Linked DNA regions of Homo sapiens. The protein of the gene in region 1 binds, or shares a complex with, the protein of each later gene. Each region holds a gene or a part of one and is shown on either strand. Other genes may lie near its edges.

The links.
Region 2: RALGAPB (region 1) and RALGAPA1 share a complex: the UniProt entries of both Homo sapiens proteins name them as parts of the heterodimeric RalGAP1 complex.

What each region holds. Positions count from the first base shown.
Region 1 is NC_000020.11:38,519,715-38,536,122, reverse strand, and holds part of RALGAPB (ral GTPase-activating protein subunit beta), read right to left. Parts: intron 15,884-16,408; coding exon of another isoform or gene 15,848-15,883; intron 14,627-15,847; coding exon 14,425-14,626; intron 11,346-14,424; coding exon 11,178-11,345; intron 10,720-11,177; coding exon 10,605-10,719; intron 10,229-10,604; coding exon 10,081-10,228; intron 4,957-10,080; coding exon 4,892-4,956; intron 3,394-4,891; coding exon 3,264-3,393; intron 1,050-3,263; coding exon 916-1,049; intron 911-915; exon of another isoform or gene 1-910. UniProt on the Homo sapiens protein: Non-catalytic subunit of the heterodimeric RalGAP1 and RalGAP2 complexes which act as GTPase activators for the Ras-like small GTPases RALA and RALB.
Region 2 is NC_000014.9:35,536,863-35,547,295, reverse strand, and holds the end of RALGAPA1 (ral GTPase-activating protein subunit alpha-1), read left to right. Parts: intron 1-3,795; exon of another isoform or gene 3,796-5,254; intron 5,255-5,266; coding exon of another isoform or gene 5,267-5,269; intron 5,270-7,605; coding exon of another isoform or gene 7,606-7,754; 3' UTR 7,755-8,940; downstream 8,941-10,433. UniProt on the Homo sapiens protein: Catalytic subunit of the heterodimeric RalGAP1 complex which acts as a GTPase activator for the Ras-like small GTPases RALA and RALB.

The DNA.
Region 1 (16,408 bases):
ATGGGTATGGGGTTTCCTTTAGGGATGATAAAAACATTTTGGAACTAGAAGTAGAAGTTGCTCAACATTGTGAATGTACCAACAGTCACTGAATTGTTTGCTTTTAAATGGCTAATTTTATATTACACAAATTTCATCTCAAAAGAATACACTTAGAGAAGCACAAATGACCACCAAGTTCTAAGTTTCCAAAAAACTGAAGTAACGGCTGGGAAAGAAATCTAAAAAGTGTAGCCAAGGCCAGGTGCAGTAGCTCACACCTGGAATCCTAGCACTTTGGGAGGCCAAGGCGGGTGGATCACCTGAGGTCAGAAGTTCGAGATCAGCCTGGCCAACATGGTGAAACCCCATCTCTACTAAAAACACAAAAATTAGCTGGCTGTGATGGCGTATGCCTGTAATCCCAGCTAGTTGGAGGCTGAGGCAGGGGGATTGCTTGGAAGCGGAGGCTGCAGTGCAACAAGTTTGCACGACTACGCTACAGACTGGGCGACAGAGCAAGACTCCGTCTCAAAAAAAAAAAAAAAAAGGTGTAGCCAGTTTTCACTTATCTCTGATAATGGAGGATGGCAGAGCCACAGGTAATCCCAAATGGCATACATTAGGATAATCATTTTTTACAAAATCAATATGCATTCTAGTATTATATGCAAATAAATAAATGGCAAGTATTGAAATGTTTCCTATAATTTAACGGTAAAAATCTCATTCATACTCTTTGAACCTATTTTTAAAAAGTAAAGTTCATTGCATAGAATATCACTTGGAGGCTAAATTTTGTACACTTTGGATATAATATAAACTATGTTTGAGCATGATCAACACTAAAATACCCACACAAGGGGTTAAGAGATACAGAAAAAACAGCCAAGGCCCAAGGCTGTTGGGTTAAAATAAAAGGACTGTCTTCCTCACCTTTGCAAGGCCAGAGAGGAGCTCTAGAGCTGCCAGTGATATGCTCATGTCTTGGCGCCACTGGGAGTTGAGTCTTTGGGTGACGAGATGAATGCTGCGAATCAGGAGCCCAGCAGCTGAATCTGTATTAAGAGCTAGGATATAACCCCAATGCCACATCCCACAGGGAGGGAAAACAACTAAGCATTAGTAACGAGAAGCACAGCATCCACTAGGCACAGACCACAGCAGCCACAGTGAGAACGACGGGCACCCACACAGTGCTACGCTCCCCACCCCACTGGGTTGAGTGCCAAGCCTGACTACACGGTGCACAGGCACATGTGCTAGACCAGAGCAGCTTCTAGTTCCTGGTTCACGCACTTTGACACAACCGTGGGATTTGGCAGTTTCAGTGTCATTTTCATAACAACGTAATTTAAAGTTTCTAAATTATCAACTCATAGCTACATTTTCAAAAAGAGTGATGAAAAGGCTATCAATTATTTCCTTGAAACTTTACAGAGGAAAGTTCTAATTTTACGGCCTCCTCAGATGCTAGGAATTACTCTGAAGCAAGCATCTGTTGAAATTACTTACAGGGTTTAAGCCATCAAAACTCACATGCAATGCCTTTTCAAACATACTTTAACATTTAATTCTCCAGGATTACTTTAATACTTCTAAAAAAATTAAATAACCAAGCCACCATATTTTTATTTGGGCTCCAATCTATATGTAAAAGCAATCACTAGTTAGCTAATAGGAAATTAGGAAAAATTAAATAAAGACAAATTAAACTGAATTTATAAAGGAAGCTTTAGGGACATTATACCTGTCGATCCTATCAGAAAGAGGGCAGTGACAACAGAAAAAGGAATGATCATTAAAGAGAGACACTCATGCGACACTAACACAAATCAGGATTTCTTAGTAAAAAATATTTTACGACATTACAAGCAGAGCTCACTAACACCAGCTCAAAATGCTGAAACAAACAATAATCACTTAAAACATTTATATTAGAACACATGCAGTAATGAAAAATTTCTTTTTTTGTTTTTGTTTTCTGTTTTTTTTTTTTTTTTTTGAGATGGAGTCTCGCTCTGTTGCCCAGGCTGGAGTACAGTGGCGCAATCTTGGCTCACTGCAACCTCTGCCTCCCAGGTTCAAGAGAGTCTCCTACCTTGGCCTCCAGAGTAACTGGGATTACAGGCACCCACCCCCACCCCCAGCTAATTTTTGTATTTTTAGTAGAGATGGGGTTTCACCACGTTGGCCAGGCTGGTCTCGAACTCCTGACCTCAGGTGATCCGCCCACCTTGGCCTCCCAAAGTGCTGGGATTACAGGAGTGAGCCACTGCGCCCAGCCAGTACTGAAAAATTTATTTAGCTTAAATGTGTTTCAGAAAGCATGAAAAATAATTTTCAACCTATAGAATACCTAAATCTACATACACAGTGAATAAGATAATTTAAATAACTTCTTCACGAATATAATATTTAAATGTGTCAAATATCCACATAATGGCTTTATGTATATCTGACATGTTCAAGGATACTTGTTGCAAACTTAAACCATAGAAACATGCCTCATGAATTCATGAACTCATGAACATGGCTCATGACATGCCTCATGAACCTCATGAACATGGCTCATGAACTCTCCAGATGATTAAAGGATTAAACTCACATCTAAGAATCTAGATATCACTCCAATCTAGCTGGATAAGTGCTCACAGATTTAATACACTGTTAGTACTTGTGTAGAAAAACATAAAGGTACCCACAAACTCACAGAATCCATAAAACAACTGCCCAAGGTAGGGGACAACCTTGTATAGGATGCTTGGCTGGCAAATGTTTTACTTGGCAGGGCAGAAAATAAAAATGTTTCAGGGCTAAAGAATCTAGTGAGCTACAGTAGGGGGTACACAGGTTTTAACATGAAGACATGCTCTCCTCTGGGCTGCTATCTAATCCATCCCCCATTACCCTCCTTGCCACACTGCAATAACTGGCTTATTGGACATCTCTGCCACTACACTGTGAGCTCTGAGGCAGAGTCCACATCTTATTTGGTTCTCTACCACCACACATGGTAGAGAATTCAGAAATGTTTACTGATCACCCATTACTATCAATTATAAAACCTAATATACTACCCCAAATCTAATATACTACCCAAAAGCTATACAGCTAAATCAAAAAGATTTGTTTTTTCTTAGCTTCTTAAGACTGACATCCTCTCTATTATACTTAAGTATATAAAAAACATGAACATTAACATTTTTAATGTTTTTGTTTTATAAATGTAAGCATTAAAGTCATTCTATTAAACTTTGAATTTCAAAAGAAACACGACTAACCATAATCTCTTAAGAGAGCTTGAGCAGGTCTCTCACTATCGGGAGTCGTGGGCTCCGTGCTTCCACCACTTGCTGAACTAATACCACTATTGGTGCGACTATGACTCTTCAGGTTATTTTCTCCACCACCCTAGTCAAATGAAAATGAATCAAGTGAGGATTACATCACAGTTTACAAGCATAAATAAAGGTCAATCATTAAAAACCATGTTGATAAAGCAGAATGTGCCAACTGAATAGTACAAACTGATAGTAACAGAAATTGACAAGGGATTAAAACCACTGTGGTATTTTTACACACACAAATCTACTGGAGGGTATGAAGGATTTGTACTACTACAAGTGCCCATACTGGGGTCTTCTTTGCCACTATTTACAAAGGGCTGGCCCAGCTTTTTCATCTTTACTAGACTTCACTAGATTCCAGGTCCTTAAAAAGAATACCCTAGTGCCTCCCAAGCAAAACCTCAGAACAGAAATATAAGCTTAAAAAGCATGAATAAGGCCAGGCGCGCTGGCTCACACCTGTAATCCCGGCACTTTGGGAGGCCGAGGCAGGCGGATCACGAGGTCAGGAGATCGAGACCATCCTGGCTAACACAGTGAAACCCCATCTCTATTAAAAAATACAAAAAAATTAGCCGGGCGCAGTGGCAGGCGCCTGTAGTCCCAGCTACTCGGGAGGCTGAGGCAGAAGAATGGCAGGAACCTGGGAGGCGGAGTTTGCAGCGAGCAGAGATTGCGCCACTGCACTCAAGCCTGGGAGTCAGAGCGAGACTCTGTCTCAAAACCAAAGCAAAACAAAACAAAACAAAAAACAAAAAGGCATGAATAAACAAACGGCAACTTTCAAATACAGTTATATCAGAAAACACAAACAATACTAGGGTTAGTTTTAACTCCCGTATGTATAGGGGCTAATAAACCTATCTGTTAGACTTCCCTCATTTTTCCCCATATAAACACAGTTCATTATATTCAGATCAGTAAATTATTATTCACCATCTACTGAGACACGAATGTAATTTCCGTAATAATAATTTGATCACCCATCTTACATCTACTCAGCTTACTACATCTACCCAACTTACCCCAGTATACCCTATTAACCCCTCCATTGTCTTGCCTATACTCCAAGTATAGGGATGATATATCTTGAAGACAAAGCAGAGAGCACTGGAAGTCTCTGAGAAGCATTTTTGATTTGGAAGCATTGGTGCTTTGAGGGACCTGCAAACTTAGGTCTAGAGGGGTTAGAAAGAATTGATGGGTAAGAAAAAGTTAAACTAGTTGCTTGCTGGCTAGGGCTTTTCCTAGGTTATTCAACCAAGTTTGCCACCACAGCAAAACAAGTAACAGTTTTAAGCAGACACTGTTCAGGAATAAAGACTGGATTTAGCTGTAGTTTCTCTCATACAGAATATCTCGGGAACCTGATGTACAGCTGAAGAGGCACTGAAAAGCAAACCTCAAAATATACATTATTTTTAAAAAGAAAACTTCTGAGCCAATGAGCAGGATTTACAAACCAAAGGCCTTTAAAATTCACAAAGATGGACATTCTGGAATATAATTTACATGAAATTCAAAAGTGATATTCTCTGACAGATTGCATGTATGCTTCTTACCATCTCCATCTGGCAACCAATGGCTTCCAAAAGTGCTGAATCTTGAACAATATTTAACATTGCCCCTACAACAACAATAAAACAGTATTTTATATAAAATACACAAGAACACTAAAATGCGTAAGACATTTTATATGATTAATAGTACAGATAAGAATATAATTTTGGTTGAGCATTCCTGAAATACCCATGAAATTATAGTTGGCTCTTAAACAAGAGCTTGAACTGTACATATGCAGGTTTTTTTCAATAAACATGTTAGAAAGTTTTTTGGAGATCTGTGACAATTTGAAAAAACTCCCAAACTGCATAGCCTAGAAATATTAAAAAAAAAAAAAAATGGCCAGGCACAGTGGTTCATGCCTATAATCCCAGCACTTTGGGTGGCCGAAGTGGGGCGGGAGGTCAAGAGTTCGAGACTAGCCTGGTCAACATGGTGAAACCCCATCTCTACTAAAAATACAAAAATTAGCCGGGTATGGTGGTGTGCGCCTGTAATCTCAGCTACTCAGGAGGCTGAGGCAGGGGAATTGCTTGAACCTGGGAGGTGGAGGTTGCAGTGAGCCGAAATTGCACCACTGCTCTCCAGCCTGGACAACAGAGCGAGACTTCATCTCAAAAAAAAAAAAAGAGAAAGAAAAGAAATATTTAAAAAAGTATAAAAAGTTAAAATTGGCCGGGCATACTAGCTCATGCCTGTAATTCTAGCACTTTGGGAGGCCGAGTCAGCAGGATTGCTTGAAGTCCTAGGAGTTTGAGACCAGAGTGGGCAACAAAGCAAGACCCTGTCTCTAAAAATAAATAAAAAATAAAAAGCTAAAATTTATCAAAAAACTTACGTACACAAACACTTACAGACCATACATGATGCCATTTGCAGTCCAGAGAAATGTAAACAAAGATGTAGTATTAAATAACTGTATAAAATTAGCTGTAGTACATACTGCACTACTGTAATCATTTTGTAGCCTCCTCCTGTTGTTACTGGGGTGAGCTCAAGTGTTAATGAGTATGCTGCTTAAAATACAATGTGATGCTAACCATCTCCATGTGAGTAGTTCATCTCTCTAACAGACTGAACACTGCAGTAAATTGCATACCATGGTTCTCACATGTTTTCATCATGTTTACTGCAACACCATGAACCTTGACTAACGCCATGGGACCCATAGGAAGTGCCACTAGTGATGCTGGAAGTGCTCCCAAGAAGCAGAGAAAAGTCATGACATTACAAGAAAAAGCTGAGTTGCTTGATATGTACTGTAGATTGGGGTCTACAGCTACAACTGCCCAACAGTTGAGACGATTTATCTTATAAACAGACAATTTATGGTATCAATAAATACAGTACTGTAAATGTATTTTCTCTTCCTTATGATTTTCTTTTTTTTGAGATGGAGCCTCACTCCGTCACCCAGGCTGGAGTCCAGTAGCGTGATCTTGGCTCACTGCAACCTCCACCTCCCGGGTTCAAGCAATTCTCTGCCTCGGCCTCCGAGTAGCTGGAATTACAGGCGCCTGCCACCACGCCTGGCTAATTTTTTTTTTCTTTTTTGTATTTTGAGTAGAGACGGGGTTTCACCATCTTGGCCAGGCTGGTCTTGAACTCCTCACCTCGTGATCCACCCACCTCGGCCTCCCAAAGTTCTGGGATTACAGGCATGAGCCACCACGCCCAAGCTTTATTTTTATTTTTATTTTATTTTTTTTTTTTGAGACGGAGTTTCGCTCTTATTGCCCAGGCTGCAGTGCAATGGCATGATCTTGGCTCACTGCAACCTCCGCCTCCCGTGTTCAAACATTCTCCTATCTCAGCCTCCCAAGTAGCTGAGACTACAGGCATGTGCCATCACACCCTGCTAATTTTTGTATTTTTAGTAGATACAGGGTTTCACCATGCTGGCCAGGGTGGTCTCGTGAGTCACCCACCTCAGCTTCCCAAAATGCTGGGATTACAACATGTATTTCTTAATAAAATATTCTTTTCTCCAGCATACTTTATTGTAAAAATGCAGTATATATTAATAATATGCATAAAATACAAAATATGTGTTAATCAACTGGTATGGGTAAGGTTTCTGGTCAACAGTAGGCTATCAGTAGTTAAGTTTTTAGGGAATCAAAAAGTTATATGTGGATCTCAACTACTCAGGGAATTGGCATCACTAACACCCATGTTGTTCAAGGGTCAACTCTACTAATAAATCCACTGATTGGTCAGAAGAGACTCTTTAAAAATTCCTTAATTCTGGCCAGGTGCATTGGTTCATGCCTATAATCCCAGCACTTTGGAAGGGTAAGGCAGGTAGATCATTTGCTATCAGGAGTTCAAGACCAGCTTGGCCAACATGGTAAAATCCTGTGTCTACTAAAAAATACAAAAATTAGCTGGGCGTGGTGGCGGGTGCCAGTAATCCCAGGTACTCAGGAGGGTGAGGTGGAAGAATTGCTTGAACCCAGGAGGCAGAGGTTGCAATAAGCCAAGATCATGCCACTGCCCTCTAGCCTGGGTGACACAGCGAGACTCCATCTCAAAAAAAAAAAATTCCCTAAAATAAATGTGGGCCAGGCACAGTGGCTCACACCTGTAATCCCAGCATTTTGGGAGGCTAAGGAGGGAGGACTGGAGAAGCCCAGAAGTCCGAGACCAGCCTGGGCAACAGAGCAAGACCCTATTCTAACAACAACAAAAAATTAGCCAGGTGTGGTGGCACACGCCTGTGGTCCCAGCTACTTCAGAGGTTGCGGCAGAAGAATCACTTGAGTCCAGGAGCTTGGGCTGCAGTGACCCATGATTGCACCACTGCGCTCCAGCCTGGGCAACAGAGCAAGAACTTGTATTTAAATAAATAAATAAATAAATAAATAAATAAATAAATAAATAAAAATAAAATGAATGTGAAGGTCAAACTTGCTTTATATAAAAACATGCTCATTATCAGATATTTTTTAACTGGTGTAAAAGACCAGATGTAAGCATCTCAATTTCAAGGGTAATATAAACTAAGGAAAATATTATGGAATACTTTCAAAACTAGGTTCTAGTCTTAAAAATAAAACAAACATTACTGTCTGTTTTTTCTACAGGGAAAAAGAAACAAATAAATAAAACAAAAATTACAAAATAAAGTCACAGCAATAGCTTTCTGACCACACTGCTTTTTAAGAATGATTAAAGCCACACAGTCTGGGGCTTGTTGACATCTGCATACCCTGAAGTAAGCTTCATTTATTTATTATCAAGGAAACCATTGTCCTGGAAAGGCTAGGACAGAAATGAGATGGTGAGCCTAACACACTGCTTCTCATCCCCGTGGGAGGTACTCTTGCCCACTATGGATAAAGAGAAGATGGAAAGAGCTTTGCCACTTTATGGCAAGAGTAACAACTGACTCTTCCTTGGAAAGTACATAGGGAGTGCCTCAGAGCAAGGGTGTAACAAAACCAAATACTGCTTCAATCGTAGAAATTATATAATTTCAAGCAAAATTATGTTATTTAAATAACCTAAAACATTGTAACTTGGAGGTTCTCACATATCAAAACATCCCCCTCCACATAAACCACCCTCTGTGTTCAGAATGTATCTGAGATATTATCAATGCCACTGGTAGACTCTGGTTCCAAACCTTGGTCAGACTGACCACATTAACTTCAGAAGGTCTCTAAAAGCCCAGCCTGAACAAGAATATAGCTATACATCATAACTGAGAATGTAAAGAGCAAAAAACTCCATTTGTGAGTCTAGAAAATCATGTCCACAATTAATGGCTTTTGAGACTTACGAAACCCTAAAAAACTTTTTGCCCAGCTACAGACAACTCCAGTCACCTACTAATTAGGTGTCTCTGGATAAATATGGTTCTTGGCCGTTGTGACCCATCTCTTCAGGATCTGTCCCTCAGTTTTAGAGGCCTTTTAGAAACCATTTCAAGGATTGTGTTCCTGTTGGAAGGACATACACCCCACCTCCTCTGGGGGCATAAGGGCTTAAAGGGAATGTCTGATCCCACTTTTGAACAGATAAAAATCTAAGATGCTAGGAAGAAGCTGAATTCTAGTCTTGCTAATGAAGAGAAGAAAGAAAGCCTCTAACCACTGCCAAGGTCAAGTCATCCTCAGAGATCAATTGCTCCATAAGCGGGGAGTTCTAACTGCCACCCAGGTTTGTGGGCTGGGATGGTATTTGCATTCACATGGTTCAGTGGGGACTCCTGTTAGGTGGCTGAGGAAAGCCCTACTTTCCTAAGAGCTTCCACTGTCAAGGGTGGTGATCTCAATACCCAGGATTGCACTTTAGTGGCACTGAGACACAGAAGCAACAACTGAAAACCCTTTGCTTTCAAATGTAATACATTGCTGTTTACCCAATTTGAACATCAGATTAGAGGAAGAAAAGAAGAGCTCCTCTGTTCATCAGGGTCTCTCTGAAGATTTTCAGGGAGATAAGACTGTCCCTTAGTGCTAACACTAGATTTGTCAATCACCAAATACCTTATGATATATTTTGAAAAACATGTAAAAAGCGGGGAGTTTAAGCATTTAAGCAAACAAGATAATTTCAGGTTTTGTGTTGTGAAAAAAATGATGAAATAAGATAATCTTTAGCAAGTATTGTTAGGGAAGCTCTCTCTTAAGAAGATGATGAAGAAAAGCTAAACAAAAATCTAGGGAAAGAACACCCCAGCAGGAGGGATATAAAGTAAGGTTCTGAAGAAATCATTAGCTGATGTGTTTGAGAAAAAAAGGACTAGGACGAAAGTGCAGACTGATGAGACCTGTAAGTAATGGGCAGGAGTAAGAGGAAGAGGCAAGAAGAAGAGGAAGAGGCAGGAGGAAGAGGACGAGGCGGGAGGAAGAGAAAGAGGCAGGAGGAAGGAGAGCAGGAAGAAAGGAGGAAAGAAGAGAGGGATGGGAAGGAGAGGCAAAGAGTGGAGAAAGGAGAGAAGGGAGAAGAGAAAGAAAAGCAAAAGCACAAATAAATGACCAACCAAGACAACTGTAACACTTTACTTCCCTCATCTCACTGCTTTAAATTTTTTTACATTAAAAAACTAACTTGTGCCTCTGATTCAGAGTAAGTAGAGCTACATTAGGTTTAGGCTCCCATTACCGACTGCCGCCTCCTCAGCAGGCCTGTAGTCAACAGTACTTTGGTTTCACTTACAAAATAACGTGTGAATACAAACCTAATATCATTTGGGTGTTGTTGGGGTCCGTTTCAGTTTGCAAGGCACCTATTAATATATTCACAAGTCTCAACTTCAGGGACAGAAAAGTTATTGGTTTATCATAAGAAGAGCTGTCATCGTTACTAAACTTTCCTTCCAGGACCACCTATGGAAAAAACAAATAATATTTAACATCAGCTGTTGCAGCTTATGATGCCCATGTGGGAACAGCTAGATGGAGGAACGGATCAGTATAATGAGAAAGGCTTTCAGTCTAATATTAGCCACTGTGCTGAATCTGTCACTAACAATATGTTAATAGATGTCCTTAGCCTATAACTGCTTGAAAACTGGTAGAAAAACTGACAGAACAAAAAAAAAAAATCACAAGTCAACTTTGTTAATTCACTTGAAATAACTTGATGAAATAACTTGAATTGAAAAATAAAAAAAGCTCCTGTTTCATTTTTAACATTCGATTTGACTTAAATTAGTACAAAAAACAGAATATAGGATATAAAAAAACTTTAACAAAACATTACCTCAGATTTGACTGTGCCAAAATGATGAGGGAGGGGCAACAAAGAAAGCAGGATATTAATGGAGGATCTTCGCAATTCTGTTGGATTTACATAGCTTTTGAATTTTGAGAGTTCTCTGCCAAAAAATAAAAAGCTATTAGTATTTTTGAACTAAAGCACATTTTTAGCTACTGCCAAATACATATAATGCCAATTTTTCCAAATCCAAGCATTGTGTATTTGTATATTGTATATTTCTAAGTTAAACTGTTACTGAATTAAACTAGAAGTTGATTGATTGATTTCTTTACCTAAAACGTAAGGCCTACTCTACAAAGGTAAGACCTCTGTGTTGGAGTTGTTCTTACCCTTCTAGACCAGGCCAAAAACGATTCAACAAGCCCACAGACAAATGAGAACTGAAGGATTTCAGGGATGAGGTGGGTTTGGACACACTACACTCATTTAATGTCGCCTGAGTTCTCTTGGACTATGAAGACAACTGGACAGGATACATTAGGAAACTGGGGAGGAAGCACCAACAGACCAGGCCAAATCAGACAGTTGATATAATAGCAGAGAATGATAGCTTACCTGTCAGGCAAAATGGTTTCAAGAGCTGAAATAAAGTAAGGAACCACAACATCAATCCCTTTCAAGTCACAGCAGAACAAAGGAGGAGAGTTTAGAATAACGCTGGCCAAGACAGGATGGCACACATAATCATTTATCTGCAAACCTTGAATTAAAAGCATGTAAAATCTAGGAAAGCAAGAAAAAAATTTTAAACAAACTGCTGATCAAAAGTTTTCATAATTATTATTTGCTACATAGTTAACTGAAAGTCTATTTCCACTCATCACTATTTTTACCCTTTAAAGAAAGGACATTATTGGAATTACTGGAATTTATTAGAATTTTACCCTTTAAAAGTTATTACTGGAATTACTGGAATTTTACCCTTTAAAGGATATTACTGGAATTAGAACAATTCTGAATCATATACACTAAGACCCAAATCATCTTTCTTAATGAAGAAAAAAAAAAATTCATGTCTGTTGCACCTTCTCAAACCTTAAGCCTTGCAACTCAAAGTTCTAGGGGCCTGCAAATAAGGCAACCAGAACAAAACAAAACAACAGGCTGCAGTACTTTTCAATAAACTGGGGGAACTGCTGAGTTAAATTCCGTAAGAGAAAAATGTTGCAACATTTAGTAATTCCTAGGGAAAAAGGTGTGTTTACATTTTTGTCCCTTCCCCATTATTTTTGGGGGGACAATGAAAGAAAGAAACCTGCATTCGATCATCTGTATTCATCATGAAGGTCACCTGAATAAGATTCCTTTTAGGAATATACCTGAATATAGCTTAGTTTTTAACTCCACCCCCAACCTCTAATCAACTTACTAAGCATTCAATCTCCCGTTATTCAACAGCAGCTGCACTGTTATACTCTTCTATTGTGAGGTGAGTTTCTCTTCTCTGCAAAACTCTTCAGAAACAACTTCATCACCTACTGGTTACTGCTCAACCCATTTCAATCTATCTCTCTCCCTAGAACTCAACTAAAACCATACTAGCAAATAACCAATGGGCTCTCGATTGCCAAATCCAAGAGACATGACTAAGTCTTAACTCATTCTGCCTTTTGAAAGCATTCAGCCCTCTAACTACTCCCTTCTCTCCTTGCTCTTCCCTGATTTCTATGACCATTTTCTTTTACAGGTCCTCTTACTCTACCTGCCCCCTAAAGATGGTGTTCCTCAGTCTGACAACCTTAGTTCTCAAAGCTCTCTCTTTTACTAACCTGATTTTAAACACTTCTTAAGTCACTAAATATAATCAAATCATTCTAACCCACACCTCTCAACTGAACTCCAGATCTATTACCCAAAAGCTTACTGGATATCTGGATGTCTAGTGATTATTATGGTACTTCTGTGCACAATATCTGGCACAAAGTAGGACTTAATAAATATTTGTTGATAAATATCCCATAGGCACTTCAAATTCAATCGATTCAAAACTAAACTAATAACTTGCCCTCTCATGAATCTGTTGTTTTGGTTTGTCCTACTACCACCCATTCAGTCTTATGGCTCAGTCAGAAAGTTCATGGTGATAGCCTTCTCCCCTACTACCAAAGTACCATTTAGGATATCTCCCCAGCCCAGAGTTCCTGAGAAACATGCCCCCACAACAAGTGGGTGAGCTCCAACACCCTTATGTGACCCACCTTCACAACTGTAGCTGACTAGACCAGAGACAGGCAGATTAATTAGATCCTCCTTCCCAGGAGTCTATAATTAAAATTCAGAGATACTAATTGGTCCTGATGGTCACCTAGACCAAGGCCATGAAAACTGGGAACTTTTTTTTTTTTTTGAGACGGAGTCTCACTCTGTCGCCCAGGCTGGAGTGCAGTGGCACAATCTCGGCTCACTGCAACCTCCGCCTCCTGGGTTGAAGCGATTCTTCTGCCTCAGCTTCCCGAGTAGCTGGGACTACAGGCAAATGCCATCATGCCCGGCTAATGAAAACTGGGAACTCAGAAGCACACTACAATAAGAGAAAATGATCTGCAGAGAAGAGAAGAATGAAGCAGTTCTGGCAGACCAGGAAGACAGAGAAAGAGAGAGGAATAAAGTTGTTTTGGTCCTTGAGTATCTGCTCTTCATGAGGCCATACTGCATTTCCTGACCTTAGAATTTAATAAATATCACTAGCTTCTCACAACTTCTTCTCCTTTTACTTAAGTCAGATTGAGAGGGTTTCTGTTGCTTAAACCAAGCGCCGATAGTTATGATAACCCTGCCTATTTGCCTGTATATACCATTCTTTTTCATATCTATAAAATTCTGTACTTGGTTCCCTCTGATAGGGTCAGTTTAATTCTATCTCCTGAGAACCTAGCAAGTATGCAGATATCTAAATACTCTGTTGATATTAACCTCACTTCTGCACTTGTGTGAATGATCAGTTAAGGAAGGCAAAACAGTGTCAAGAAGAACGGGAGGCCATTATGAGTTAATTTAGGAGAAAAGTGACAAAGTCTAAAGTATAATGGTGGGGATAGAGTGAAAAGAGAGATCAGAAAGAGAGTTAAGTAGCAGGAAGGCAAGAGTTGGTTGATCGGTTGATCAACTAAAGATACAGAAGAAGAGGATTCTAAAATGACTCTTCGTTTCTGGCCTGAGCAACTGAATGGATGGCAGAGGCATTAACAAAGATGGCTGAAGCCATAGATTTGGAGAAGATGACCCTAACCAACTTTCTAACATAGGCTAAATGCTACTCATCCTTTATAAGTCCAGCATAATCATTTAATCCCCCAAAACTCTTTCCTGAATCCCCTACAGTAAATAAATGTGCGCTGCTTCTTCCCCTGAATGCCCACAGCACATTATCTGTGCCTCTCCCATCAATATCCTAATTCCTGCTGGATCATTGTTACATGTGTACACGGCTTTGTTTGGGGCTTTGCCCAGAAAATAAGCTCCTTGGAGGCAGGATTTACAGCTGACTTATTTCTGGACTGCCTACATGGGAATACTGTGCTAAAAATTTGTTAACAAATAATTGTGGTCCTTCGAAATCTCTCCATATTAAAAAGATTCAAATAAGATGACATAAATAGCACTTCTAAAACAAAAAGGGTCTTAAGGGTCTTTACCAAATCTGATGAGACAGGTAAAATGAAAGATTTCAGGCAAATGTCGATCACTTACAGACATCTGTAGGTATTTCAGACCAACATCACTCATCGGTTCAGTCGGCCAACCAACAATGGCTTCACTATCAAAACTATATAAATGAAAAAACAAACAAAAATTCCAAGACCTGGATAAATAAGCTGGCAGAATCTCTTCTCCAGTCTTCTTGCTACAAAAAATCCTACACAGTGTCCCACAAGCCTCAGCTCTTCCTGCTTCATAGTTATCAGGAAATTCACTTGCATCAAACATAGGATTGGAAACCATGGTGTCTGTGGACATTTGTGACCCTTTCCGTCGAAACTCCATGCTAGCTTGTGTTGTAATGGCTGGGGAGAGAAAAGGAGGGTTTTATTATATTTGCAATATGCCACGTAGGCTCATGGGACCCTGGACACAAAGATCAAATATTGGTGTCATTAAATAGCTACTTGAATCCAATAAGTGCTTTTGTTTAGCAACTATGTCTTAATATTTTTAAAAAGGGCTCTCTGAAATCTTCTTTGAAAATAGGTTACAATTAATTTACAGTGGCATTGTCAGTTTAACAGATGGTACAAGAAGCATTTTTCAACTGAATTTTTGATCAGCAGAGTACATTTGTATATATCTGTATCCACATACAGATATATAATACAGAATTTGGCTTTTCTATTATTTCTTTTCTGTTTTTTCTTCCCCCTACAGAATGATGCTTAAACGTTAAGAAAAATAGCTACTGCAATTTACACATTACCCCAGATGGACATCCTAATTAAATGGGCAACCCTATGCCAGTCTGTATACTTTAGGGAGAGGGCAAAGTAAGGATGAGAAGTGGGCAGGGAGAAAAAGAGAGCATTCCCACCACCCACCCAACTCCAAAACACACACCAAAGAATCGCTCAACCAAGCAAAATGAGAATGAATTTTAACAACCACAGACAGCAGCTAACTTGAGGCTGATAAATCAGAAAATTGGATTGATAAAAAAGATTATCATGGTCATTTGTTATCACTGAAACAGAAGCCCTTTGAAAGTTGCTTTTATTTTTAACAAAAGATTTCACAGTGTATTGAAAATCACTCTGAAATCTTTTATTACTCTACATGAAATGCTTAAATTATTTTATAATAGATTTAATAGAATACAGAGTCAAGCATAAATCTTTATGCAACTTCCCATGAGCCATTTTTAGTCCTAAATAAGCTATCCAGCAATAATACATTTGAAAAACACTACATGCAGAATGCATACAAATCAAACACTAAATCTGTATAAAAATAAGCTTAAAGCTTTAAAAAAAAAAAAAAAAAAAAAAGCCAAAACACAGTTAGTGCAAAGTCCTGGAATTCATGACATGACCAGACTAGTATACAGAAATAATGGGACTGATTCAGGCAGATTAATTTGCTCTTGCCAACAATCTTCCCCATTCAAAACACAGAAAAGTATTTTTCTTCCCAAGTGCAAAAACTACAAGAGACAATGACAATCAAATTTTTAATGGAATTATGAAAAAAATAAAAACATGACTGCAATTAAGGAGAAGCTTCTGGTTCCTACTTACAAGATTTATAAGAAAGAAGAATTTGGATAAAAGATGCTGCAAGATAATAGAAATAAATGGAAACAAATCAAAGGACAGTAGTAATTATAAAATACTTTAAAGATGGTGAAATTTTACAATAAATTAAGAAGCTTTTTAGCTTTTTAAAAGTTAAATTAAAAGCTTTACGATACCACAAGCTAGTTCAAAAACATAGGAAATTGTGCATTCAGGTCCAAAATTATGATTTTTGTATCATGCAAAACAATGAACGAAGAAAATTACACAACTACAAAGAACTGAGGTTTTGAAGTGCCCATAACGTGCATTAAAATTTTAGTTCATTAACCCTTCCCAGCTCAATGTTACTTTTACAAAGCACAGTGTACTGTCATGTAAATCAAAAGCTAACCAGTTCAAAGAAGCAAACACTTTAAGTTAGAGGTGAACTGCATGGCAGAATTCCTTGATGGCAGCCAGTACTTAAAAAACAGTTAATATACCCATGCCTCCCACCAGACTTGAGACCTCAAGATTGGCACCTAGCATTCTAACCCCTTTAACTATTTGGACACCTCATAT
Region 2 (10,433 bases), on another chromosome or scaffold:
TACAGCAGCCAAGTCAGGGTTCTGTTGGCTTCATTTTTAATGTGTCTTACAAAATTATTGTGTAAGTTGTTTAAAATAACACTTATGATTGTCTAAATAGTAGTAAAAATGTGAATTTGAACATAAACCTAATATTGTGCTACAGATTTTTTCAGTTAATTTTTAAGAGTTGTCACTGCATTTAAGAACCATCCTCTAATTTTAATATGCACTCTGATTTTCAAAAGGGTGTTTTTGCTTGTAAATAACTTGTGCCAGTATTACTGAATACGTTTCTATATAAGTTTTTGCAGACTTTAATAGTTATGACATAAATTTTTATCAGAGTGGTTCTCAGTTCAACACAAAATAAAAATGAAATATTTACTCTTAAGAGTAGCAAAAACATAGAATCTGAAAAATAATTTTTTTCCAGTTATCTCAAATCTTAACTTTTCTGTCATAAGTCCCATACATATAGAGCTCCCTTTAAAGTTATAAGTCAAAGTGGACAGAGAAGACATAAAATAAGCTGTATAATAGCAGTTTGGACCTGACTGCTGGTTTGCAAAAATGACATAATAGTGTAAAGTTTTTAATCTTTTTCCTAGCAGAAGTATAAAATGTGTTCACCACATTGAAAAAATGGATTCATAATTGCAATTGAAAAATCAACTTTAGATATCCTGTGCACACCCTATGTATATAAAATAGTACTAATCAATACTAATATGGTCATTTGAAATTAAATTTTAAAGAAATGCCAAAATGGTGATTATATTCTGTCTAACCAACCCTATAACATAATTATATTCAGTGGAATAGTATAGAAAAATAATATTTATTATTATTATTATTATTACACTTTAAATTTTAGGGTACATGTGCACAATGTGCAGGTTAGTTACATATGTATACATGTGCCATGCTGGTGTGCTGCACCCATTAACTCGTCATTTAGCATTATTTTTTTAAGATTTCTTAATTTGGTTCAAGATTATCTAAAGCCCACTTTCTGGTTAGCGGTAACGTGCAAATCAACTGTGGTGACATTTAAATCCGAGAAAACATTTTTCCGTATTACTTTCAGTATTATTAAAATAGATATGAAAGATTTTGGTGCATCATAGTTGATCCATAAATTTCATAACTGTATTTTCTCAAAATGTACTGTCTGTGGCAGTAGACTGATACTTAAGGGAAATTATTTTTATCCCTAAGGTCATTGAGGGAAATATCGTGATGTCACACTTTGTTGATCTTTCATAACTACGTTAAAATATTATTAGATTTTTCTTGTCTTTTATTTTTAAAAAATTACAGGAAAAAATCCCTTTATCTTTGTCAGGCATGTGTGTGGAAAATATCAAAAGTTTTTAGTGACTTCTTAAAGTTTTTTCATATTTACAAATACCTCTCCTTTAATTATAAACTTTAAAATGAAATTACTGCTCTTCTTGGCCAGATTACACTGTTTGTTCATATGTACATGTTTCTCCCAATGTTATATTGTCTTTTCAATATTATCTTTTTTTATTTTGTAATAAGAGAAATTCTAGAATGACAACAAGAAACAGGATCCTGTTTTGCTGAAAGTGTATAGTAAATATTAATTGGTTTAACTTTCTCAATTTCAACATTAAAAATATACTCATAATTTTTTGGAGTATTATGTCTTTAAGTTACAGATTTTAGTTATTTACAGTTAAAGTGTTGATAGGTGTTTCTGTCTTTCTGTATTCATATACATATATATACATACACAAACATATATCTATACATACATAACACTTTTTATAATTACTTTTGGAGAATATAGGGGTTCCTATTTAAAGCAATATTATAAAATTAATAAAATTCAAATATAATTTTTATGATACCAAATTCAGAGATAATCAAGAGTGACTATGAAAACCTAGAGTAGTATCTAGTCTGCCTTCTAACCTCAGTTGTGCTGTTAATTTGCAAAATCTATATTCCCATATGTAGATAGGATGGAATTTATGATGGTCAGATCTATTTCTTTGAATCTTTGAGTGGGATGGATCATCAAAATTTAGCCATTGCTTTAGGTAACCTTTTTTAGCTCAATGTCCTTTAAAAGTTATTTAAACTACTCAGGCTTTGAAATGATCTGAAATAAAATATTTTAGCTCCTTAGAAGATAGTTATTTTATAAATATCTTAAATATTAGTAAGTGCCAACAGAAGAATTAGTTGCCTGCAATATGTAACATAAGCTATAAATCTGTTTATTTAATGGTTTGGTTTTTGTTTTTGTTTTTTTTGAGACAGAGGCTGGAGTGCAGTGGCGCAATCTTGGCTCACTGCAACCTCCACCTCCCGGGTTCAAGCAATTCTCCTGCCTCAGCCTCTCAAGTAGCTGGGATTACAGGCCCATGCCACCACTCCTGGCTGATTTTTGTATTTTTGGTAAAGACAGGATTTCACCATGTTGGCCAGGCTGATCTCAAACTCCTGACCTCAGGTAATCCACCCACCTCAGCCTCCCAAATTGCTGCGGTTACAGATTTGAGTCACCATACCTGGCTAATTAATGTTTTTAAAAACAGATTCCTACGCATATTAATTTATCATTAGATTAGCCTGAAATTATAGGCAGCCAGATATGTTCTATTTGATACTTTGAACTTGGAAATTTGGCTTATATGTTGTTGACCAAGAGGCAAGTAATAATCTTAAATAAGACCCACTAACCTTTTGTGATAACTGCTGGTTCAGTTTCCACATAGAACATTCACTGAGATGTGAAATTTTTGTAATGAAAATAATAAAATAATAATTGTGCTATTACTGAGTGCCAGACACTGTGCTCGGTACTGTACATACATTATGAAATTAAAAAATGCTTACCCAGAGTCACCTGGTACTTTGTCAAGCTAGTATTTCAACCTAGACTGATCTGATTTCAGAGGGCATGATCTTAACTATTACAGTTACCCATTTAGTCTAAATATTTTCATCCCCTTCCTGCTGTTGATAGAGAGATATTGCCCAATAACCTGTCATATTTACAAATTATAAATTGTTAAAGATTTTTATTTTAAGGGTTTTACTTTCCCACCCATTGAAAAATCTCTTTTCCCCCATATATCTTTAAGGTTGCCAGGGGAGAAGTATGAGCTTTGGAATCAAACTAATCTGGATTTAAATCCTAGTTCTGCCAGTTGTTATCCATATAAATGCAAATTAATCAATTCTCCCAATTTTTTCCTTTGTAAGGAGGAGGTAAAATATGACAAGCTTGGCCTGATTTGTTCTAAATCTAAAATACTAGTAGTTCTTGAATGTATCTTAAAATGAAACCACATGTTTGCCTTTATTTCTCTACTATTTTAAATTATGTTATTTCCTGGCCAGGCATGGTGGCTCACGCCTGTAATCCCAACCCTTTGGGAGGCTGAGGCAGGCAGATCACTTGAGGCCAAGAGTTCAAGACCAGCCTGGCCAACATGGCAAAACCCTTCTCTACTAAAAACACAAAAATTAGCTGGGCATGATGGCATGCGCCTATAATCCCAGCTACTCAGGAGGCTGAGGCAGGAGAATCACTTGAACCCGGGAGGCAGAGGCTGCAGTGAGCTGAAATCGCGCCACTGCACTCCAGCCTGGGTAACAGAGTGAGACTCCCTCTCAAAATAAAGAAATAAAAATAAAAAATAAATTGTGTTATTTCCTTTATGATATTCAGTGCCATCCATGCTAATCTTAATAACTTATCAACTCCTTTAAAAATATTAAAAGCAAGGTTATTTGGGTAGCCTTTAACCTTTAATATAAGGTTATATTTTATAGGACTATCAACATAAGAGAGGATAAATTTCCTTCAAACTAAATTTAATGGTATGTTGTGCTTTTCACATTTGAACAATAATATTTTGTATAGGTGGTCATTTTCTTCAAAAATGTTCCTCATTTCTATCCCTTCGTTTCTAATCCTCATCTGTTCTGATTCAAAATGTATCAGCTTTTATTTTTCTCTGTTTAATAGCATTATTATGTAGCTATACTTACTGTGCTCCTACTATGTGCCAATATCTTTGCATATGTAATCTTAATCCCTGGGATGACTTGACAAAATTGCAAGTATTAGCTCCATTTTACGAATACAAAAATGTCTCAAGTCAGTTTGCCCAAGATCAAACAGCTGGTAAAGTGACAGAGTCGGCATTTAATCTAGGACTGTCTAACCTATGCCCATGTTCTTTCTAACAAATCACATCGTCGCTGGAGTTCAGTATTAATTGAAATTGCTTTTAAAGATATAATATTTTATAGGGCTATATCTGCCCAATAATTAGCAGCTTTAAACCAGTCATACCTGTCACCAAACAGTACAAACGAAACCACAATAAAAAATGATCTTTTGAGCTCCCTCTTATAATCCCTATATATCCCAAAAGTCATATCCATTATGTTAATTGTAATAATAGTTTATTGTAATCAATGTGCAATATATGAATCAATTTATCCCATCAGATTACACAGTCTGTGTGAGCACTGTAAGAATGTTAGTAACAGATACGGTATGCACAAACATAGGAGCTCATGTGTACTTTTAAAACCTCATCCTTGAGGATATATTAATAATAGAAATAAATCAGCATTCTTTATGACTCAAGTAGTATAAATCAATAGGTAGAGTAGGATGTGAAATGAAATGTAGGTTGTTACTACATTTTTTACATCTAAAATTGAGGTCTTTCTACTGTAAATTATTTATAGAGTTTGGGAATGTTGAATATATACCACAAATGTAATTTGCTAAATTGTTAGGAAGTACTGATAACTATACACCACACACACTAAAAATCCTTATTTGACTCTGTTGAGTGAAGGGAGATTTCACTTTAAAGGCAGTGAGGAAGACATGGAAGAATTGTTTTTGAGGAAAATATTATTTGAGTTTGCCATAATGTAGAGCAATGCTCTCTGATAAAGCCCTCCTTCTATGGTGATGGAAATGTTCTATATCTGCACTGTCTAATGTGGAAGCCGCTAACTACATGTGGCTGTTGAACAATTGAAATGTGGCTAGTGTACTGAGGAACTGAATTTTTATTTAATTCATTTTAATTCAATAAATTTAAACTTAATGTGGCTGTGGCTACCACATTGGACAATGCAGCTCTAGAGATTTTATGTCTGAGTGATTAGGATAACATGCCAACAGTACAGTGAACACTTTAAAAGGTAGATATTTACAGAATCTCTCATAGACCTTTTTTCTTCTTTTCTTTTTTCCTATTTGAACTTGTTTTGTTAGTTGGTAAGTATAACATTTGAATTTACAAAGCATTGTCATTGTGAACCATCACCCTAATGCATTGCATGCCCAATTATATTTCATAATAAAAACCTTGATTCCTCTCTCTCTGCTCCTCAGTTAACACCTAGAAAATTCTGCACTGTGTCTCTCATATCTGTTATCTATCTTCTCTTTTGCTTTCTCACTTCTGCTTGCTACTCCATTTCTTCATTCACAACAAAGAAAGAAATGCAGTGATAGTTCTCTTCCTCCCAAAACCTCCGCTAGAAAACATTGGCCATCTCAAGGTAAACAGCAATGGGAGGGCCTCTCGTGATGGCCGGGAATGATATGCATTACCAGAAAAGCATGAGCTACTACTGCTCTTCACTTTCCTTCTGCCATCCATCTGCAGTGCTTCCCTAAAGGGGGTCATGGATTCATATTCTCCCATAAATTTTCCAGTATGGGTCTGCTATGAACCAATTCAGATCTTCAGGAAGAGTAAAGGTGAACAGAAATATGTTTCCTTCTCCTTGTATTTTGAAGGCCAGTCTTATTTCAATTAGAAAATAATGCTGGAAAAGTTACTTTGAGAAGAAGGGCAATTGACCTGGATTATGAGTGACAGAATATTTTTCCTTGGAAACATATATTTTTTCTTAAGTATAACTCTAACATTTGGTCTTAAAAACTTTTTGAAGGCCGGGTGCGGTGGCTCACGCCTGCAATCCCAGCACTTTGGGAGGCCCAGGAGGGTGGATCATGAGATCAGGAGATTGAGACCATCCTGGCCAACATGGTGAAACTCCATCTCTACTAAAATACAAAAAAATTAGCCGGGCGTGGTGGTGCGCACCTGTGGTCCCAGCTACTCAAGAGGCTGAGGCAGGGGAATCGCTTGAACCCGGGCAGTGGAGATTGCAGTGAGCCAAGATCGTGCCACTGCACTCCAGCCTGGCGACAGAGTGAGACTCCGTCTCAAAAAAAAAAAAAAAAAAAAAAAATTGAAGTGTTCTGCAAAGACATATTCTTAATTGCTTAAGACATCTCAATAGGATCTTCACCCCTTACTGAACTTTTTGTTTTTGTTTATAAACATTCAGTAACTTCAGTTTAAGCACAAAACATTTCATAGATATGAAAGTGCTAGCATAATTATTTCCTAGTTTGAAGTATCAATGAGGTGCTACATTGGCTAACAAATATGCTGAAAGTCTCCCTGTAAAGTAAGGACATGTATGTGTACAGTTAAACCTGCAACCTGTGTGGTGTTTTTGTTTGTAAAACACATAAAGAAAATTTTCATGTACTTAAGACCCAGAAAATCTGGATTAAAATGCCTTAAAATATCCAGAATCTCTTGCTGTTATTGTTTTCAGATTTTTTTTTCTGAAGGACTTTTATTTTTAATGTGATTTTAATTAATTACTCATTTTGTTTAGGAAATATTTGAAAGCCTACAGTGTGCAAGGTTCTGTAGTATTGCTGCATATTAGAGAATGATAATTTATAGAAATAAAGCACAGAGATGAAAAACTACTTTATAAATGACACAAAGAACTTTCCTATTTGATTTTGTTTTACTTCTAAAATTGTATATCTACTAATTCTACTGGTTACCTGCTTGCTTATGATTGAATAAGATACCTGCAAAAGTTTAAGTTAATGAAAACAAAAGCATTGTTTATGTCTTTTAAATTAAGACATTTTGGGGGAGTCAGTTTGCCTTTTTTTAACTGACATTCAGAGGAGAATTCTTGTCCTCCCCTCATCCACAAATTTATCTTGCTCCTTCTTAAAGCCGTCTTTAAATACCTAGCATGTATATGATCTCATAGTGCTGAGTTCCTTTTTTTGTTTTGTTTTGTTTATAAGGGCATCTAGTGAAACTGACTTCCTTTTTGAAACCCGTGGTTCCAAAACTGTTTGGAACTGTTTGGTGCTGTTTTTCAAGTTTGAGTAGTGAAGGCTCTTTTCTTGGTTGTACCCTGAATCCTAGAGATAGGAATTGGTCCTTCTCACCTGCTTCTTGACCCCTTCCCTGCATGCTGATGGTGCTTTGGATCCCTGTTCTTTCTGGCTCAAAGATTTTGCTTCCCACTGCTTTTTCCAGGGTTCTAGCCCTGGGAATGATGATTGGCGCTTTCTTGCTAATATAATGACATGAGCCACCAGATTGCTGGGTTTTAAATACATTAGTAGGCTATTGTAACAAGCAAGTTTGGGGCTTGCTTTTTCCCTCGAAAGATCTTATTAAGGGATGGGATCCTTGCTGCAGATTAGTAGCAGAAAGATTATTTCTCAGGGGATGAGAGGCTGGATAACTGTAGTAATGCTCTTGCTGTTTCCTACAGGCTCCTACCCAGAGATTCTACCCAGTGAAACTCCCACAGCAACGCAGGTAGATGGGGCTGACCTGGCCTCTCCAATGTCTCCTCGAACTAGCAAAAGCCGCATGTCCATGAAGCTGCGTCGTTCCTCTGGCTCAGCCAATAAATCCTAAGGAGACAAGCAGCCCAGCAGTGATCAGCAGTAGCCACCTTAGCACGAACATAGGGTTAACCCTTTCAGGCCTTCATGTCTGCCATAACATGCATGTTTCTTCCTGTACATTTATTTGAGAAAACACTGGATTTAAATAATTTTAAATAATTTGTAGCTTAATATTAAAGATTTAAGTTATTTATTGTTTCATTTTTTTTCCCACAATCCAAGCTGCCATATTTTGAGGGCAGGGGGAGTTTTATTCTACACCCTTTACCTTCCTAGATAATTATGTCTAAGTAGTTTTATCTTTAATTTCATGGTTAACTGTGAGCCAAAATACAATTGGACAATTAGTCTCATTATTTATTGTGCCCCATTGCAACTTTATGGTTCAATAAATATATAATTTTTTACAAATGTAAAATTTTACATTTAAGCATTTGTAAAGTTACAGCAAAAGATGTACCTGTTAATACACAGAATGTGTACAGATTATTTGTTATGACAATAAAACACTCAAAATAAATGGTCTTTAGCATCTCAAATTCCAACTGAAATCATTTTAGTATTAACTCTTCTTCCCAAAGCAATGTCTCATTTCTTGGCTGTGCAGGTGATGCCATGTTATATCCAATAACTAGAAAAATCACTGTGCTGAACTTTTATGTTTAGCTTCCAAGTATTTTTCTAATGTTTTGCATTTCAAGTGGTATCACTGTTAAATGCCATTTGTTTTCAGATTGTGGCCTTTTATTATTGGCTGCTAGATCCTGGTGTTTCTATGTTCTTTTTTAAGCACCAAAAAGAAGATGGGGAAGAAAAGAAGGAAAATTTTCTGATATAAATATGTTGTTCAAATTATGAGTATTATTTAAAAAAGAAAAAGGAACATAACCCAGGAGTCTAAGTTAAATCTAATATTGTTAATACTGAACTTGCAGGTCCAGGTTGGTATACATTCCACCCTCTAGAAGTATTTTCTTACAGTAGATAAGCTGCTCACATTTTGTTTTGAATGGGCATCTCCTGAGGAAATGTAGCATGACATTGGTACTAACTGCATGTGTAAATACATCATACTGGCAAACCGTAAAATATAAATTATGTATCATCATTCATGTAGTATCTATAATTTGTAACAGTGGGGGGGAAAGATGACATGGTATTTAATAATACAATAAAAATATTCTTATCACTTCCTATCCATGAGTGTTGATTTGTCTTCTATGTTTCATATATTTTCAATAAGCAGGGCTATATGAGTAGTGAGGAGATTTAAAGCATGAACCTAGATTATCTTAGCTAATCATCAAAAATAAACTTGAATTCCCTTTTCAAGATACATTCCAACTTATTTCTCACAGATCCTACCACAGTCGTTAAAAACACAGGAAATTTTCTGTCTTCATAAAGGCTGGCCAGAAATTCACCCAATGCAGTTGGTTAGATTGTTAGTTTATCTCAGCTTCATGTTTTTGTTTTGTTTTGTTTTGCTTTTTGAGACGGAGTCTCCCTGTCACCCAGGCTGGCGCGATCTCGGCTCACTGCAACCTCCGCCTCCCAGGTTCAAGCAGTTCTCCTACCTCAGCCTCCTGAGTAGCTGGAACTATAGGCGTGTGCCACCACGCCCGGCTAATTTTTTTGTTTTGTTTTGTTTTTTGTTTTTTGTTTTTTAGTAGAAACGGGGTTTCACCGTGTTAGCCAGGATGGTCTCCATCTCCTGACCTCGTGATCCGCCCACCTCGGCCTCCCAAAGTGCTGGGATTACAGCTTCATGTTTTTTTGATTCTTAAATTTTACTTTGTTTTATAATATACTTTCAGCAATAAAACTTCGTACTAACAAGTTTCTAAGACAATCTTTCAGAAATTCTGTGCACCCAATTTCATTTTCTTATAAATGAAAACTAAAAGTCCTATGTAAGCTGATGTAGAAGATAAACAAATGGATAGAGTCCTTGGGAAGAAGATTGAACAATGTAGACAATTTCCTACAGCCAAGGTGAAGAATTACAAAAAGGAAAATCAGAGTAACTGCATACATGTTTCTAAAGTGCTATAAAAAATCTAATGGATTGATGATATATAACAATATGGAGTAAAAATACAAACCTGAAATAATGAAATTAATTAGCACCATTAAAATACTTCTTTTCATCTTCAGGTAACACTGTTCACTAGCTTGAAATATATATATATATATATTTAAAATATGTTTTCGGTTGACATTTCTTGGGGGGGATGTCTTTTTTAGATTCAAAGACTAGTGCATATTCCTTGCTTTTTGCAGCTCAGTCTTTGCAGCCATACTTCAAAGGAAAATTTTTCATTGCATTCCTGCACCATCACATTCATTTGCAAAATATTTCCGTCTTTGTATTCTGTCCAAATGGGTCACTAACATTCTAAAACAGGATACCGACATTGGGGAGATAAGAAATGTGGCTTTGAAAATAGGCTGTGTTCAACAGGATTCTTAAGACAAACACAGAACACAACAAAAGCACAGTCTATGTACATTTATTTGGTGGTAAGCATCTTACAAATACGGGCTTTCTGTCAGGCAGTGCTCAGCCAATGTCCCAAACTGGCTAGTAGGGAATTAGTACACAATGTACACTGAAATGGTTTTTTAAAAAAATCAAAAACAAGTTGCCGCTGAAAAGAAAATACTGAATATTGAGCAAATTGCCATT